Linked DNA regions of Homo sapiens: region 2 is linked to region 1. Evidence: fine-mapped expression QTL. Tissue or cell type: whole blood. Region 1 holds a variant in brackets; the other region holds the start of a gene. All regions are shown on one strand. Distances are between the middles of the regions.

What was found. PIP is the estimated chance that this variant, and not a neighbour inherited with it, causes the effect.
Region 2: LINC02693 starts here. The variant in region 1 is fine-mapped to the expression of LINC02693 in whole blood (TOPMed, PIP 0.98).

The regions. Positions count from the first base shown.
Region 1 is chr17:21,354,545-21,362,648 of GRCh38, reverse strand. No RefSeq gene overlaps it. Among named protein-coding and RNA genes, the nearest start is that of KCNJ12, 18 kb to the left of the region's middle. RefSeq lists enhancers at 2,474-3,184, 4,248-4,818, 4,819-5,389. The variant G/A (reference allele first, on the strand shown) is at 4,401.
Region 2 is chr17:21,547,560-21,555,663 of GRCh38, reverse strand. It overlaps LINC02693 (long intergenic non-protein coding RNA 2693), which reads left to right and starts at 3,986. Exons shown (of 2, transcript NR_160801.1): 1 at 3,986-4,668. RefSeq lists a silencer at 3,923-4,092.

The DNA of each region.
Region 1 (8,104 bases):
TCATCCATTCATCTCACCATCTGTTCACTCATCCATCTATCCATCCATTCATCCATCCACTGATTCATCTGTCCTCTCACCTTTCATCCATCCATTCACTCATACATACATCCATTCATCCATCCATCCATCCATCCATTTATCCATCCATCATCCATCCATCCATGCATCTTTTCATGCATTTGTCCACTCATCCATCCATCTTCTCCTTTATCTGTCCACTAATCTATCCATCCACTCATTCATCTATTCACCCATTCATCCATCCACTCATTTATTCATTCATCCATCATCCATCCATCCATTCATCCATTCATTCACCTATTGATCCATCCACCCATTTCTCCATCACCCACTTATCCATTTATCCACTCATCCATCCATCCATCTCTTTATTCATCTATCTACTCATGTACCTCTCCACTCATCCATCTGTCTGCTCATCCATCTGCCTATAAGTTTCCTTTCTTCGTCATTTACAGCATGGGCTTTCTCACTCATCTCTCACTTCCAGAGACTTTTCTAGCATCTGATCCCAACCCTTCTAGTACAGCTCCCCTCTCTGCCCCCCACTGCTGACACAGTCAAACTAAATGTCAAACTTAGCTGGATATTCACCTTCTACACTGGACCCAGAAGAGGCCTCAAGGCTCACATGGTAGAAGAAGAAAGAGGAGGGAGTAGGGCAGCCATCCACCCCTCAGCCCTTACTCTCCACTCCAGGCTAGCAACCTTGGAGTAGGCAGCCTGCCCTGCAGGTAATTAATCAATAAGTCAATCACTGAAGTGATATTTGTTAGGCACTCACTGGATGCCAGGCACTGTGCCCACTACTGGGGACAAGACAGTGAACAAAACAGAATCCCCACCCTTGTGCAGGTGGAGTTCTAGTTCATGAGAGAGAGAACAAACAAGCTGAGTGAGGAATTAGAGCATAATGTGTTATGGAGAAAAACAGGGGGAGGGGTTGCACTGTTAAGTTGAACCAGTTGTTTCACTGAGAAAGACCTGAAGGAGGTAGGGAGGAGCATGGGGGAACAGCACCAGGTAGAGGAAACAGCATGTGCGAAGGCCCTGAGATGGGACTGGTGTGGGGAGCTCCAGGGAAAGCCTATGTGGCTGAACAGAGGGAGCGGGGGCCAGGGGGGTGGGAGCTAGGGTGGGGTTCGGGGGGCCTCAAGGCCTTGGGGAGCCATTGCTTTTGTTTCTGGAGAGAGTGGATCCATGGGAAAGTTTGACAGAAGGGTGACCTGAGCCGATTTGGGTGTCAAAAGGCAGAGGAGAGGCCTCTGGAGCCCCCTTGGCTCCCCTGCAAGCCCTCAGGGTAGCTGGTGCTGCACTTGCACTTTTGGATGGTTCCTGGAACATGTCTGCCTCTCCCAACAACTGGAGGTGCCTAAGGCCAGAGACTGTGTCTGCATCCCCAGCACTCAGCAGGGGCTTGGCTATGAAAGGCAATGGGAAACATTTGCTGAGATGAAGGTGGGGGAGGAACAGATGATAAGAACAAGAGAATCAGTGAGCAAAGAAAAGAATGGCTAGTGAGTGACTGAGGTCACAGGCCGGGGGCTCCCTCCTTATCCTCTTCCCAGGCCTCTGGGAGCCCCACTCTCCAGCTTGTTAAATTGTATAATGCTCCCCACCCAGAGCTCTGAGGCCCCGACAGCCTCAAGCTGCAGCCCCCAGCCTCTACGGGCCTCGGGTGACAGCGCTGGAGACCTCCGCTCCTGCTGGAGGTCAGGAAGTCCTTCCATCCACTCCAGCAGCTGCATCTAGATACCTGGTCCCTAAGGCTGGGGAGGGCAGTGGGAAGGACTCCAAGGGGCCCCCAACCCTGTCTAGAGACACTGAGCTGCTGCCCCTGCCACCCCCGCAATGCCATTACAGCCACTCTCAGGAACTGCTGAGCCTCAGTAATGAGAGCTTCTCCCTCCCTGGAGGCCTCATCTTGGCCTGGGGACCAGGAAGACAATCATCATTAGAGTCTCCATTTCACAGATGGGGAAGTGGAGGACCCTGGGGCCAGTTCCCAAGCCCCTTTCAGCAATGCTTCTCTGTCCACTTCCCATTTCCCAGCCACTGTTTCATTCCTATCTGTAGCAGTGAAGACAAAAATCATGTTTTCAAAAGTTAGTTTGAAATTTAACCTTTTCAATGTGAAATAGAAACACTAATGTCCTGTTCTGCTTTGCCTCAGCTCAGGGTCACTATGTTGGGGGGCTGAGCTCTCCCCAAAGCACCTAGGGGAAAGAGTCTGATCTCTACCCCACTGCTGTGGAAACCTTCATTTCAGAATTCCTCAAGTTTAGCCCAGCCTCCGTTAACGAGATGCGCTGACCAAGTGGCCTGGCAGGAGCTGATTTACGCAGGGACCGTGCTGGGGACTCCCTGCTGGGGTGAGGTTAAACACAAGGGCTTTGCTAAAGAGGAAGAAGCAGTTGAACCAGGCCACGAAGGAAGAGACAGAAGGCTTTTCAGCCCTGAACAGAGACAAGGTGGTGGCAAAGCATAGGCAAAGGCCTGGAGGCAGGAATCTGGCTGGATGAGCATGGGGCAGGGTCATCATGGGGCAGCAGGCAGGTCACAGAAGTTCCCCCGGTGAGCTGGGGCGTCATCAGGAGGGCTGTGGGGAACTGTGGCAGGGTGGTCAGCTGGGTCCTGGCCCCGATGGAGCTGAGTGTGGGTCCTTCCTTCCCAGCACAGCCCTCTCCCTGTGCTCAGCATGATGCTCACAACCAGTCCCCTTTCTACTCAGCAAAGAGAAAGGTCTTGAAGCTTAGTGGAAATTCCCCAAGGTCTCCCCTTCCTGGAGGGCCTGTTGAGGCTCCAGCATCCTCCTGCCCAGCAAAACCTGAAGTTCTCTCACTGGTGGCTCATTGTGGGAGCGACTTGGTGGGCGGGGGCACCACAAGAGGCTTGAGGGGCAGAAGGCAGCACAAGTGAGGGGCCCACTGCTCAAAATCAGGAGAAAGAGCCCGTCCCACCCTGCCACAGTCCCGCTTCAGCACCATACACCTGTGGGCACATGCACGTGCACACATGCACACACACACATATGCACACACATACACACACACATGCAGGCGCACACTTCAGCTTCGAAAATGTCTGTGGCTCTCCCTGCACACCGCAGGCTCATTATAAAATAATTGAGCGCTTGTAACACTGTTTTTCTCCTTGAGGATCCCAATTAAGACATCACTTCATGCTCTTCCTGCCCTGAAAGCCATCTCTAATTCCCCTCCCCTCGCACGCAGGGCAGGCAGCGCTAAAAATACTGTTCCAGGCACACTCTCTTTCTGCCACGCCTTCCCCCTTCCCACGCTGACCCCACCCAGAGGTCAGGCGCCCCTGGGGAAGGAGGACCCTATCCCTCCCTTAGTGACCTGGAACAAGTGACTTCATCTAGGAAATGGGGAGAAGAATGGCATCTGTCTCATCAGGTCCTCATGAGGAACAAATAGTACATGTGTGAAGCACTTAGCACGAGTCAGGCTGGATCCAGCCCTTCACAGCCTGGAATGTTTTCCGGGTGAGATAGCTGGCTTTAGGGTGTGGCTCAGCCCAGATTGTGCGGTCCCCACTGAGCTTCCCGCCAGCCTCAAATGTCAGGGCTAAGAGCTCCTAATTCTAATTCTAATGCTGAGAGTCTGATTCTGAGGTTCACAAGATTCTGACTCCTGGCTGCTCAGACCTCAGCAGATGCAAGTCCCTCCTTTGCTACCTCCACCAGGTCGGAGCCCCCATGGTTGCTCACCAGGACTCAGGCAGTGGCCACCCCCTGCAGGCCTCCCTGCTGCCCCTGTGAGCCCCATGCACAGCCAAGGAAGTTCTGGGAGACTGGAATCAGACCTGAGCCCTCAAGGCTTGGCATAGCAGTGAGAATCTATGACCTCCCTCTGCCACCTCCCACCTCCCTCCCCCTCCCCCAGCCTCCAGGGCTTGCTAGCTTCTGTCCCCATCTCGGGGACCCTTGCACTTGCTGTCCCACTGCCTGTGACCTTCAGTCCTTGCCCTCCACTTGGTAGGCTCCTTCTCACCACCCAGGCTCAGCTCAAAGGTCTCCTGTAAGAGGCCTCCCCAAACCCTCAGACTACAACAGCCACCCCATGCCTGTCTCATGATGCCTGCTTCATCTCCTGCACAGCCCTTTCCTTCCAGAAATCGTCCCACTGATTGTTTTCTGTGTTTACTGTCCTCTCCTCTACTGGAGTGTCTCTTGCTGCTGTGCTCCAGGGCCTGGCATACAGTGAGCACTCACTGAATATCTGCTAGTGAATGAATGGATTATGTAACCAGGAGAGCCTAAGGTCTTGGCTCTCCCTCTCGAGGTCCAATACTTTGTTAGCTCAGCAAGCAAAAGTGTGTTGATTGATTGACTGAGGGGGCACAGCTCCTCC[G/A]TAAAAAGCAACTCACATACACTAGGGGAGTCAGAAATCAGCAATGCAACCCCTTCTTGGCAAAGACGACAGAGGCACCTGACTCGCTGGCCCCATGGCTTACACACCTCTCCACTAGCCATTACCACCTGCCTCAGAGATGGATGAAGCCCTTTCAGAGGGTCCAGCCACTTACACCTGCAGGGGTTCCCTTTCCTTTGTCCTCCCCAGCTCTGCAAGGGTCAGCTGCAGCCCTGCCCAGGCTGACCGGAACTTGACACGTTGACCTCGGAGGGGGCCTCTGAGGCCTGCAGGGGTTGGTGAAGGGGCAGAAGCTCTGCCGTGAAGGGCAGGTCCTGAATGGAGCCAGAGTGGGGACTGGGAAGGAGGGGCAGGGCTAATGGGCTGCTAATGGCCCTGCAGCTGGGCTCTGGTGACCCCTGGCTCCCTAGGGGCCAGAAACAGTGCTAATGGGGCTGCCCCTCCCACAGCAGGCCCTTCCCTTCTGTTCCAGATCGGCTAGGCTGTTAAGGGGTAAGTGGCAGGAGAGAGGGAAGAGTGATCAGCCCCCTCCATTATCCCCACCACCTTGGCCCTCAAGGCAGCTCAGTGAGCCCAGAAACCAGCCTAGAATGTGGGGGAGGACATCGGCACTCCATCCCCTCATTACAGGCGGGGAGCTGAGGCTGGTGCATTAATCTGGTCCTGTTCACCTTTTCCCCTCTTGTTCCCAAGTTCATGGTTCACTTCTCCTCTCTGGACTCAAGCCCATAGGCACAGGCCGCAGCTGGCAGGGAAAGCCAGGGAGGGCACAGTAGGCACAGTGCCCAGGGCCCACACAACTTCCAGGATCCGTGGTGGGAGCAGTGAGAGGAGAGACAAAATAGTTTCAGGGCCTTGAAAGCCAGCTAAGTCTGAAGTTTGGATTTGTATCTGTGAGCAATGGGAAGTGAAGAGAGGGCTTATGATGGGAAGGTCGGGATCAGATGCTAGAGAAATCTCCAGAGAAAAGAGATGACTGCAGAGGCTGATATAGTAAATAATGGAGAATGGAAACAGAGGGAATATGAGTAGATGGATGAGTGGGCAGACGGGTGAGTATATTTACAGGGAAACAGACAATTGAATGGGGTGAGCAGGAGTGCTAAGAGGGATGTAAAGATGGATGGATGGATGAGTGGATGGGTGGGTGTATAGATAGATGGATGAATTGATGGATGAATGGATGGGTGGGGGATTGGTGAGAAGGTGCATGGTTGAGTGGATGGGTAGATGAATGGTGGGTGGATGAATGAATGGATAGATAGATGAATGGATAAGTGGATGGGTGGGTGGGTAAGATGGATGGATGTGTGAGTGAGTGGACAGATAGATGAATGGGTGAATGGATGGGTGGGTGGGTAGATGGATAAATTGATGGATGAATAAATGAGTGGGTGAATGGATGGATTGGTGAATTGGTGAAAGGGTGGGTGGATGAATGAATGGGTGGATGCATGGGTGGGTAAGTGGCTGGATGAATGGATGAATGGATGGATGAATGGATGGATGGATGAATGGATGAATGGATGGATGGATGGATGAATGGAGGGATGGATGGATGGATAAGTGGGTGAGTGGGTAAATGAATAAATGGAACGTAGCTGAATAGATGGATGGATGGATGGATGGGTGGGTGGTTGGCGAGGTGAGTGAATGGAGTCAAAGGGATAGATAGATGGGCAGGGCATGAATGGGTGAGTGGATGACTAACGGAAAGATGGACAGGGGATGAATGGGTGAGTGGATGACTAACGAATTATATTTCTCTCTATTCCAGTGAAGACGTAGAATATATTTTTAGTGTTTTTGTTTTGTTTTGTTTTGTTGTGTTTTGTTTGAGATGGAGTCTCACTCTGCCGCCCAGGCTGGAGTGCAGTGGCGCAATCTCAGCTCACTGCAAGCTCCGCCCCCTGGGTTCACACCATTCTCCTGCCTCAGCCTCCCGAGTAGCTGGGACTACAGGTGCCCGCCACCACGCCCGGCTAATTTTTTGTATTTAGTGTTTTTATTTTTTATGGATAAATGGACTCATTTAGGCCAAAGTGCCCTGGGTGCTTGAAAGTCATAATGTGGCCCTGGGGAAGGCCTAGCTGCCCTCACCTGATGGCTGGTTAAGGCCCTTTGTTCTCCTCCCTCCCTCCAGCCTTCCTCAGCCTCCAGGAGGTCTCAATTTCCCCACCTCCAGGCTTTTGCCCAGGCTGTTTCTTCTGCCTTGGATACTCTTGTCAAAACTCTTCTCCCCCAGGAAGCCCTCTGGAGCTGGCTTAGGGTCTGGTCTGGATTCCCGCAGATGCTTGGTCTTCTGTTTGAAACAGCCTCTACCCAGACTGTGAGCCCGGGGAGCGGGAGACGTGGGTGGGCAGGGGTGTGGGGGAGGTGGCAGTGGTGGGGAGCCATCATCTCTCCACACAGGCAGGAGCCCTGAGAAAAGGAAAGGACGGCCTGTTACGGCCGTTTCCCAGATCCCGTCCACGTGTCAGGTCCCTCATTACCGCCTCTCACCATCCCGCTTTCCAGATGAGGACCAGCCCCAGGTCAGTAAATGGCTAGACCCTTATTCAGCAAGAGTGGCCTGAGGCTCTGGAGGGGTGGGAGGGGCCGAGGGGAAAGGCTCCTGGAGATGGAGCCCAGGACCCAGCAGCAGCAACAGGAATAATAAGGCTATTACCATAAGGGAAGTGCAGCAGCCATTGCAGCTCGTCCCTTCCCTGCTCTGTGACCTTGGAGCACAATCTTAACTTTCCTGAGCCTCAATTTTGTCATCTGAAAAATAAGGTCAGTTATCACCCAACCAGGGGTCAAGAGGGATAATAGTGAAGGACATGCAGGTCCTCGTGGCAACATCCATGACTGCGGTTGTCATGCCTCCCAAGCTGGCTTCTTGGCTCCCCTCAAATCCTGCCGGCAAGGTCAGTCTCACCACATGCCTCACAGTGGCCTCAGGTAGGCACAGGGCCTGGAAGTGGGACCTGTCTGTGGTGGGCGCAAGCACCGGCATTGGTGATGGGGGTTGAGGGTGGTGGGAATTGACAGCTGGGCCGGCTGGGGAAGGGAAAGAACTGGGAAACCAGGCCAGACACTGCAGCATTAACGCAAGGGCAACAGGACACGGCCATAACTTCACCAAATGCCCGCGAGGGGCCCTGGGCTCGGCTTGGGGGTGGGAATCCACTGTGAGAAGAGGAACCACAGTCTCGCTGGAGGTGTTGGAGGCAGGGCTGGAAAGATGGGAGCCAACTTCCATTCATTCATTCATTCATTCATTCATTCCTTTGCTGAACACCTGCTCTGGGCCAGTCCCCGATCTGGGCATTGGAGACATAACAGGGCACAAAAGAGACAAAAGCCCCTGTTCTTGTGCAGCTGATCTTCTTGTGCAGGAGACAGACAACAAAAATGGAGATGCGTAAACTTCAGAGGAGGCAGTTTCAGGCAGAGGTCAAGGTATGAAGGTCAGGGTAGCAGGGTGGCGAATGAGGCGTGAGCGGCTACTTAGCCAGGGAGGTCAGTGAGGGCCTCTCCAAAGAGGGATGTTTGACAGGAGACGTGAAAACTGGTGCAGAGATGGAAAAAGAGTGTTCCATTCTGAGTGGGGGTGGTCAGCAGGCACAAGGCTTGGAGGCAGGACAGAGCATGGCCACTCACACAGAGAGCCCAGAGAAACAGAGCGCTGGCCCCGAGTC
Region 2 (8,104 bases), 190 kb before region 1:
CTCCAATTCCATCCAGGTTGTTGCAAATGCCATTATTTCGTTCCTTTTTATGGCTAAGTAGTATTCCATGGTATGTATGCGTGTGTGTGTGTATATATATATACACACACACACACACATATATATACACACATACATACATATACACACATACATACATATACACATATATGCCACATTTTCTTTATTCACTCGTTGATCGATGAGCATTTGGGCTGGTTCCTTATTTTTGCAATTGTGAATGATGCTGCTATAAACATGCATGTGCAAGTATCTTTTTCATGTAATGATTTATTTTCCTCTGGGTAGATAACCAGAAGTGGGATTGCTGGATCAAGTGGTAGATCTACTTTTAGTTCTTTAAGGAATCGCCACACTGTTTTCCATAGTGGTTGTATTAGTTTACATTCCCACCAACAGTGTAAAAGTGTTCCCTTCTCACCACATCCACACCAACATCTATTTTAATTTTTTGATTCTTTTATTATGGTCATTCTTGCAGGATTAAGGTGGTATCGTGTTGTGGTTTTGATTTGCATTTCTCTGATAATTAGTGAAGTTGAGCATTTTTTTCATATGTTTGTTGGCCATTAGTATATCTTCTTTTGAGAATTGTCTATTCATGTCCTTAGTCCACTTTTTGATGAGATTGTTTGTGTTATCCTGAACAGCTACAATTCTTTGGCTTGTTATTTTAGTGGTTGCTTTAGTGTTTATAGTGCATGTCTTCAACTGATCACAGTCTACCTTCAAGTGATAATATATCATTTTAGTATAAGAAACTTACATCAGTATACTTCTTCCCTCCTAGTCTTTAAGCTATGACTGTCATCCATTTTATTTTACATGTTGTAAATTCCATAGTACTTTATTATTTTTGTTTAAACAATTATATTTTAAAGAGGCTTAAGTAATAATAACAAATCATATATTTGTCCATGTTGTTACTATTTCCAGTGTTCTTCATTCCTTTGTGCAGATCTAGATTTCAATATGGTATCCTTCTTAAGGCCTAAAAGACATCCTTTAATTTTTCTTGTGGTGCAGGTCTCCAGGTAAGAAAGTCTTAAGTCTTTACAAGTCTAAAAATGTCTTTATTTCTTCATATCCATTATTCTCTTTTTGGTAGTATCTAGTTGGCTGTGACACTAATCCATTAAACTTTCCATTTCAATTATGGTATTTTTCAAATCTAGATTTCTATTTGGTAATTTTTCCCAATCTACTTGGTTATTTTCATACTCATGCTCTTTAATCCCCTTGTTTCTTTACATGTAAGACACACTTTATGTGATGTTTGGTGACTCTAATATCTTAAGTCTCTGTAGGTTTTCTCCTCTGTACATTGTTTCTGCTGGCTCTTGCCCATTATAAATGTTTGTGATTTTTGATTAAAAACTTACATTCCATGAAGCTGTCTTCCATTTTGCTTTTGCCAGGCACCTGGAAGGCATTAAAAACCTGATGTCACTTTAAATTTGCAGCTTGAGACTTTTTAGATTATACAGTTTGTGTGTGAAGCCACCAGTGGAAGGGCTGCCCATGGTTATATATTAATGTATCCTCACTCTCAGGAGGGATGTTTTCCCTCAGGATGGATAATCTTGTCTGCTGCTCCAGGGGCTGCAGGGATTGAGGGGGCAGGAGACAGGGGAGGCAGACAGGTTGATTCATAGTTCCCTCCTACACTAAACCTATCTTTTTGGTGTCCTACTTTTTTTTTTTTTTTTTTTTTTTTTTTTTTTGAGACAGAGTCTGGCTCTGTCGCCCAGGCTGGAGTGCAGTGGCGCAATCTCGGCTCACTGCAACCTCCACCTCCCGGGTTCACGCCATTCTCCTGCCTCAGCCTCCCGAGTAGCTGGGACTACAGGCGCCCGCCACTACGCCCGGCTAATTGTTGTATTTTTAGTAGAGATGGGGTTTCACCGTGTTAGCCAGGGTAGTCTCGATCTCCTGAATTCGTGATCCGCCCGCCTCAGCCTCCCAAAGTGCTGCGATTACAGGCTTGAGCCACCGCGCCCGGCTGGTGTCCTACTTTTGATGTCTTCTGCTAACCGTCCTACCTTGGACAGGATCTAAACTTTGTCTGCTATTCTGCTGCCCCATCCTCTTCCCAGACTATGAAAAGAGAGTTTCAGTATGACACTTGGCAACTATCTTAAGGGTGAAAAATGGCATCTAATTACTTCTTTGGGTTTCTACTTTCACTTTTTAATTTTAATTTTTTTGCCTTTGCGAACTCTTAATTATTTTGCAGCTCATTGATACATTTTTTAAAATGGTTCTTGATATGTATTCCAGAAGTTTTTGTTGTTTTCTGGTTCTTGTCAGCCCATGTTGCCGGAAATAAAATTCTTTCAACTTGTTCTTTAACAATTTACAGTATCCATATATTCCTTCCTGTTCTAGAGGCAATAGAGTGAGAACACACACTTAGGAGCCAAGCTGGCCTGAGATTAAGATCCACCAGCAATGTGACCTCAGTAGCCTATTTACATTCTGAGTCTCATAGGGTTGGTGTGATAATTAAATGAGGTAATATATGAACAACACTTAAAACAGAGACTGACACTGGTAAGGATGGACTTTCTTGTTATTACTATCTGAAAAAGTTGAAAAATTATGAGCCTGAGTAACAGTTATACATCTTACCCAATGGTTCACTAACCTCTGGTCCCTGGCTACCCCGGCCCCCTCTACCATGCAGTCACCCACACCCATGCTTATACTGATGGAGAGGAGTCAACTATGAGCTATTCACTGGATGACAAGCCCAGCTACTGTCACAGGTGCACCCCAAGTCCAGGACAGAATGCTAGCAGATAGCTGCTGGTCTGAGAAATGTCATCATCATATAAGCCTGAGTGAAAACACAGCCCCTTTACTACTAAGAAATCTGAAAACAAACAAACATAAACAAACATAATTTTAAATTTTGTATTTTTTATGATGTCATTTGTCCCAACAGCCATCTGACATCAATAGCCCTGATTACTAAAAGTCTCAACGTTATAGAAATGTTCTCCTCCTTTTTGAAAACCATGTTCATTTTTCCCCCACGATACAGCGCTATCTGCAAAGCCTTGAACTGATAACATAGCTCAGGGGCTAACTCTTGTCTTAGCAGAGTAGCAGCTGAAAAAAGAAGACAATTCTTAACAAACAGGGAGATCAGGAATGCTCACTTCTAAAAACATTATTTATTCAGGGCAAGTGGTATTTGTGACGTGCGAATGAAGCTTAAACTTCAGCTTTAATTTATAAGAATTAGGAAATGCAGATTAAATCTCTGATGCCATATTGTGAATTCAGTAAAGGTTAACTAATCTACGACGCAAAGACAAACGTTAGCTATCCTACGCTTATTATTCTGGAAATTTAATGAAAATTAAACAAGAAGACTCACAGAGTATAAGAATTGTCCCCCCGCCTTAACAGTGTTGTTTTCAGCCTCTGTTGCCTGAAACATTGCAGAATAATTCAGATTTTTTTAACCCCACCTTTTTATTGAGTAAAACCAAAGTACTAAACTAATAAATGTGAAAAAGGATGTTGGGTTTAAAAAGAAAAAGCCTCAAGACATCGAGCCTCTTAGATATTTTAAAAGTGAAGACTGAGAAGGAACGCACTGTTGCTAAACAGAATTATAGGATTATGGTCAATTTATAATCTTTTCAATATGGGATTTGAATGTTCTGATATTAGATACCGTGTACGTGCTTTATTTATATAGTACCTCCCGAGAAGAAAAAAACCAGTATTGGTTTATACAGTATTTGGCATGCTATTCACGTATGCAGTGATGTATACGATGTCAGAGCTAGAAAATAGCTTAGATACGATTTGGATTCAGCGCTGGGCGGCTCCGCCCCCGCCAAGCCCCGCCCCGTCCCCTCAACCCCGCCCGGCTCCGCCTCGTCCCCTCCGCCCCGCCCCGTCCCCTCCGCCCCGCCCCGTCTCCTCCGCCCCGCCCCGACCCCGGGGCATGCGCTGTGCGCCCGGCCGGCGTGGCTGGCTGTTTGAGGACTGCGCGCGGAGCTCCGTGGCGGGTGTCTGAAGTCGTGAGTTTACTGCTTGTAAGGAACATAGCGATCACTGGGAACCTGGAAGTAGAGACTCCTTTCTGCCATCCATCCGTCCCTCGGGCTGCTGCGAATCCCCCCGCCGGCCTCCAGGACCCCGGGCTGACTGAACGCCCGCACCGGTCCCGCCGCCCCAGGGCCCGCTACGCGCCCGGCATAATGGGAGAAAAATCACGACGGAAAGGCCCAGCCCCTCGCCATGCAGACGGGAAGCTTGGCCGCACGTGTGATCACCCTTACGCCCCTTGGAGTTTCACCCCCTCTTCGCGGGCTCCAACAGCCTGGGTCAGGCCTCCTTGTCCTGTGTGGGCCTCTCGGCTGCAAGAACACAGTCCCGAGCCCCGGCGAGCCCGCGCGCCTCCCACCCGCCGTGCACAGGCTGCACTTTACGCCCCAGCACTGCGCCTGCGGGACCATCTGGATCGCTTTTCCATTCTGATGACGTCCTGTACTTCGTGGCTGCAGGCTCCTCAAGCCCCAGGTCTGTGCAGAGACGAGCAAAGCAGCAGAATATCCGTGCCACAGCTTTCTGGAGCACCCATTTTACTACCAGATTTGGAAGGAACGAAGTTAAGTAATTTCCAAGGTAAGTAATTAAAATTTTACGATGAAAAGGCTAGAAACTCTTCTGCTGGTAATAACTGTCAGACATATCTGTGCCTGAAATGTCAGACTTTTTCTGAGAAAAAAACTGAAAACTTGTTTCCCATTATTTTAAATAGGAAAAATTATAGGGCACAACAAGTCAATAGAAAAAAACCTACCAATTTCCTAACTCACAGTGTGGCAGTAGGTTTAAGTTGCACATAAGTTAGGATGTAAAATGCTTAAATGTTGCCACTTGGTCACCCACATTTGATATGGTTGTTAACATGCATTTGCCTTGGATGCAGTAGCTGTGCGACCAGCAACATCACACGTGAACCTCCCCTTTGTCAACACACCAAAGCTTTTTGAAGTGACTGTCATGATCCTGATGGTCTACCAGTTGTTTCTGGAAGGAACATGTGGTTTTTTCCAGCAAACTATTTAGTTTAAAATGTTGTAATTTTTGAAAGCTCAAACATTATGTCTACAACCATCAGCCAAAAAATTTGAGACAGGTTCTTGCTCTTTTGCCCAAACTGCACCACGAAAGGGGTTCCAGCGATCCACCTGCTTCAGCCTCCCCAGTAGCTGAGACCACAGGTTTGTGCCACCATGCCTGTTAATTTCTAAATTTTTTGTAGAAACTACATCTCCCCACATTGCCCAGGCTGGCCTCGAACTTCTAGACTCAAGCAATTTTCCTGCCTTGGCCTCCCAAAGTGCTGGAATCACAGGCGTGAGTCACCAACCGCACTCAGCCTGAAAAATGTTTTGTGAGATAAATAGCTGCTATACAGTTTAGATATTAAAAACTAAGATGTGTTCTTCCAGGAAAGTTATACTTTCAGATATATTCTGTGTCACATCCTGTATGATGAAATAGATGGCAAAAAAAAAAAAAATCCCATTTAATTTAAAGATGGAAGCTGTAACTTCAAGTAAATTTGGAGCTGAGGAGTCCTTTCGGGCTATGACCCCAGAATTCTGGGGTTCTCTGTACTGATTTTTTGCTAGTGTCCACACACAAGCATTCCTTAATGCTGTGCATTAAACAAATAGACCTTTTTTAACCCCAGGTTTCTCTCCATTTACCATTCTGTTTCTCTGCTCCATGCAACTTCCTCACCTCATGTCCTCTCTTGCACCCACTCCTTTCCAGCTTTCCTCCAAGGTACTTTGCTGAAACGACTTTTATCTCAGTCATTTAGCTGCATTTGACACAGACGATACAATTGAGGAGTTCCACCCTTTCTTCTGGATTTTAGGGACCTTCCCTCCTGGATTCCCTCTCACCTTTATCCTCATCCTCCTGCTCCTCCTCCACCAGATCTCTAGTGATCCTCTCAGAATGATCCCACACAGTCTCATAGCTTTAAATACCATCCATCTGTTGATAACCACTAGGCTTGGGGCCTCTTCCCTGAGGGGAGCACCAAGAGTCATCCCTGACTCTTTTCCCTTCTCCCCCAACCCCCATGCAACCACACAGCAAGTCCTGTGGCTCTTGAGTGCAACCAGCATCCTGATTCACCATCTCCATTTCCACAACCAGTTTCAGTCACCTTCCTCTCCTACTGGGCTACTGCCAAGAATCCTCCAACCTCCCTGCATCTTGTCTTGCCCTGCTACAGTCCAGCCTCCACTCAAGCATCCAGAGTGATCTCTTGAAAATGTTAAAACATGATATAGGCATACCCCCACCCCTGTGTAAACCCTGCCACTATCTACTCATTGCAGTAGAATAAAAGCTCAGACAACCTGGTGCCTGCCTCTTCAGCCTCATCTCCTGCCCTTGCTTGTTCTTGCTATGTGGGTCAGATTTTCTGGTCTCCAGAGCTGAAAACAATCTTAACTGACAGACGTTAGATCATAGACTTTATCTACAGCATAAGGCATGGAAGGAAAAGTCTGAGAGAATGAAGGGCCAGAAAAGCTTGTTTAAAAAAAAAATAAAAAGCACAGGAAACTGGAAACGTAACTAACCTGTATGTATATACTTAAAAGAACATGGTAACAAAATGAACTCTTTAGAAACTGAGCCAACAGACTTGCAAACAAATAGAAATACCTTTGGTCCTACTCTGAAAACAAGAAGAATCCTTAGTGAGTATACAAGAACAAAAATTGTACACATTTCTGGGTCATAATGCAATAAAACTAGAAATAATCAAAAGAGAATTTAAAGATGTTCAGCTTCCTGAAAATGTTAAATTATCCTTTTAAACAAATTAATGCCTGCATCAGGGTGCAAATCCAAAACACAAATACCTTGCCTATAAAAATATATTTTTGCAAACAACAGTGTATCGGGATGTGAGGAGAGAGCTCACTGACTCAAAAGCTCCCAGAGTGACCAGATGTGTTCATGGGAACCGGAGCACTGCCCTGGAGTCATTTGACATCACCTTATTACAAGTAGGAACAGCCATGCTGGGAGATGCTCAGATGCCAGTAATAAGTCAGAGGATTCCCTCCTGAATGGGACCTCCCAGTCCTCTTTGGCACAGGGTTCCAGGCAGTGACCACAAATCCATCGGTGATGGCTTACAAGATCAACCTGCCCTCAGGCAGTGGAGTGGAAACTGGCACTAGCAGCTACAGTGGAAAAAATGAATGGCCTCTAAGAATATGTCATCTGCCCCATGCAAAGATTCTGGATCCCAGAAGTCCTCCTAGTAAGGACTCGGAGCCAGACAACTTCATTTCCTGTCACCTGGGCTGCTCTCCCTCTGACAGCTATGGAAATTGGTGAAGCACAGGAACGTATTGGAAATGGCAATGATGTGCCATGCCAATGTGTGGAAGTGTACAAGTTAAGTAATATTTTAAAAACAGAACACACAACAGTTTGCACAATCCGACCAAAGCTCTGTCATGTATGTTTCTAAACAAGTTTGGAAGAGAATTTGGAAATGGCTGAAATTTTTTTATAAAGCTTATGTTTTTAGTTTGTTTAAATGTAAAAGCATACACTTAGAAACAAGTTAGTATGTAAAAATTTTTAATCTTAGCTATCTGGAAGCTTCAAATACTTAGAATGAGGCATTTCCCAAAGGTATCTGTAACTTGAATTTTACCGTAGTTTGAAAACTCTTGCCCAGCATAATGGCTTACAGCGGTAATCCCAGCACTTTGGGAGGTTAAGGTGGGCAGATCACTTGAGCTAGGAGTTAGAGACCAGCCTGGGCAACATGGTGAAACCCCATCTCTACAAAAAATTTAAAAATTAGCTGGGAGTGGTGGCACTGCTGATAGACACAGCTACTCAGGAGGCTGAGGTGGGAGGATCCTTGAGCCCGGGAGGTCTAGGCTGCAGTGAGCCGTGATCGCACCAGTGTACTTCAGCCTGGGCAACAGTGCCAGACCCCGCCCCCTCCCCTAGAAGAAAGAAAACTATTAGTTCATAGTGCAGTTGATGAAATAATGTACATCCA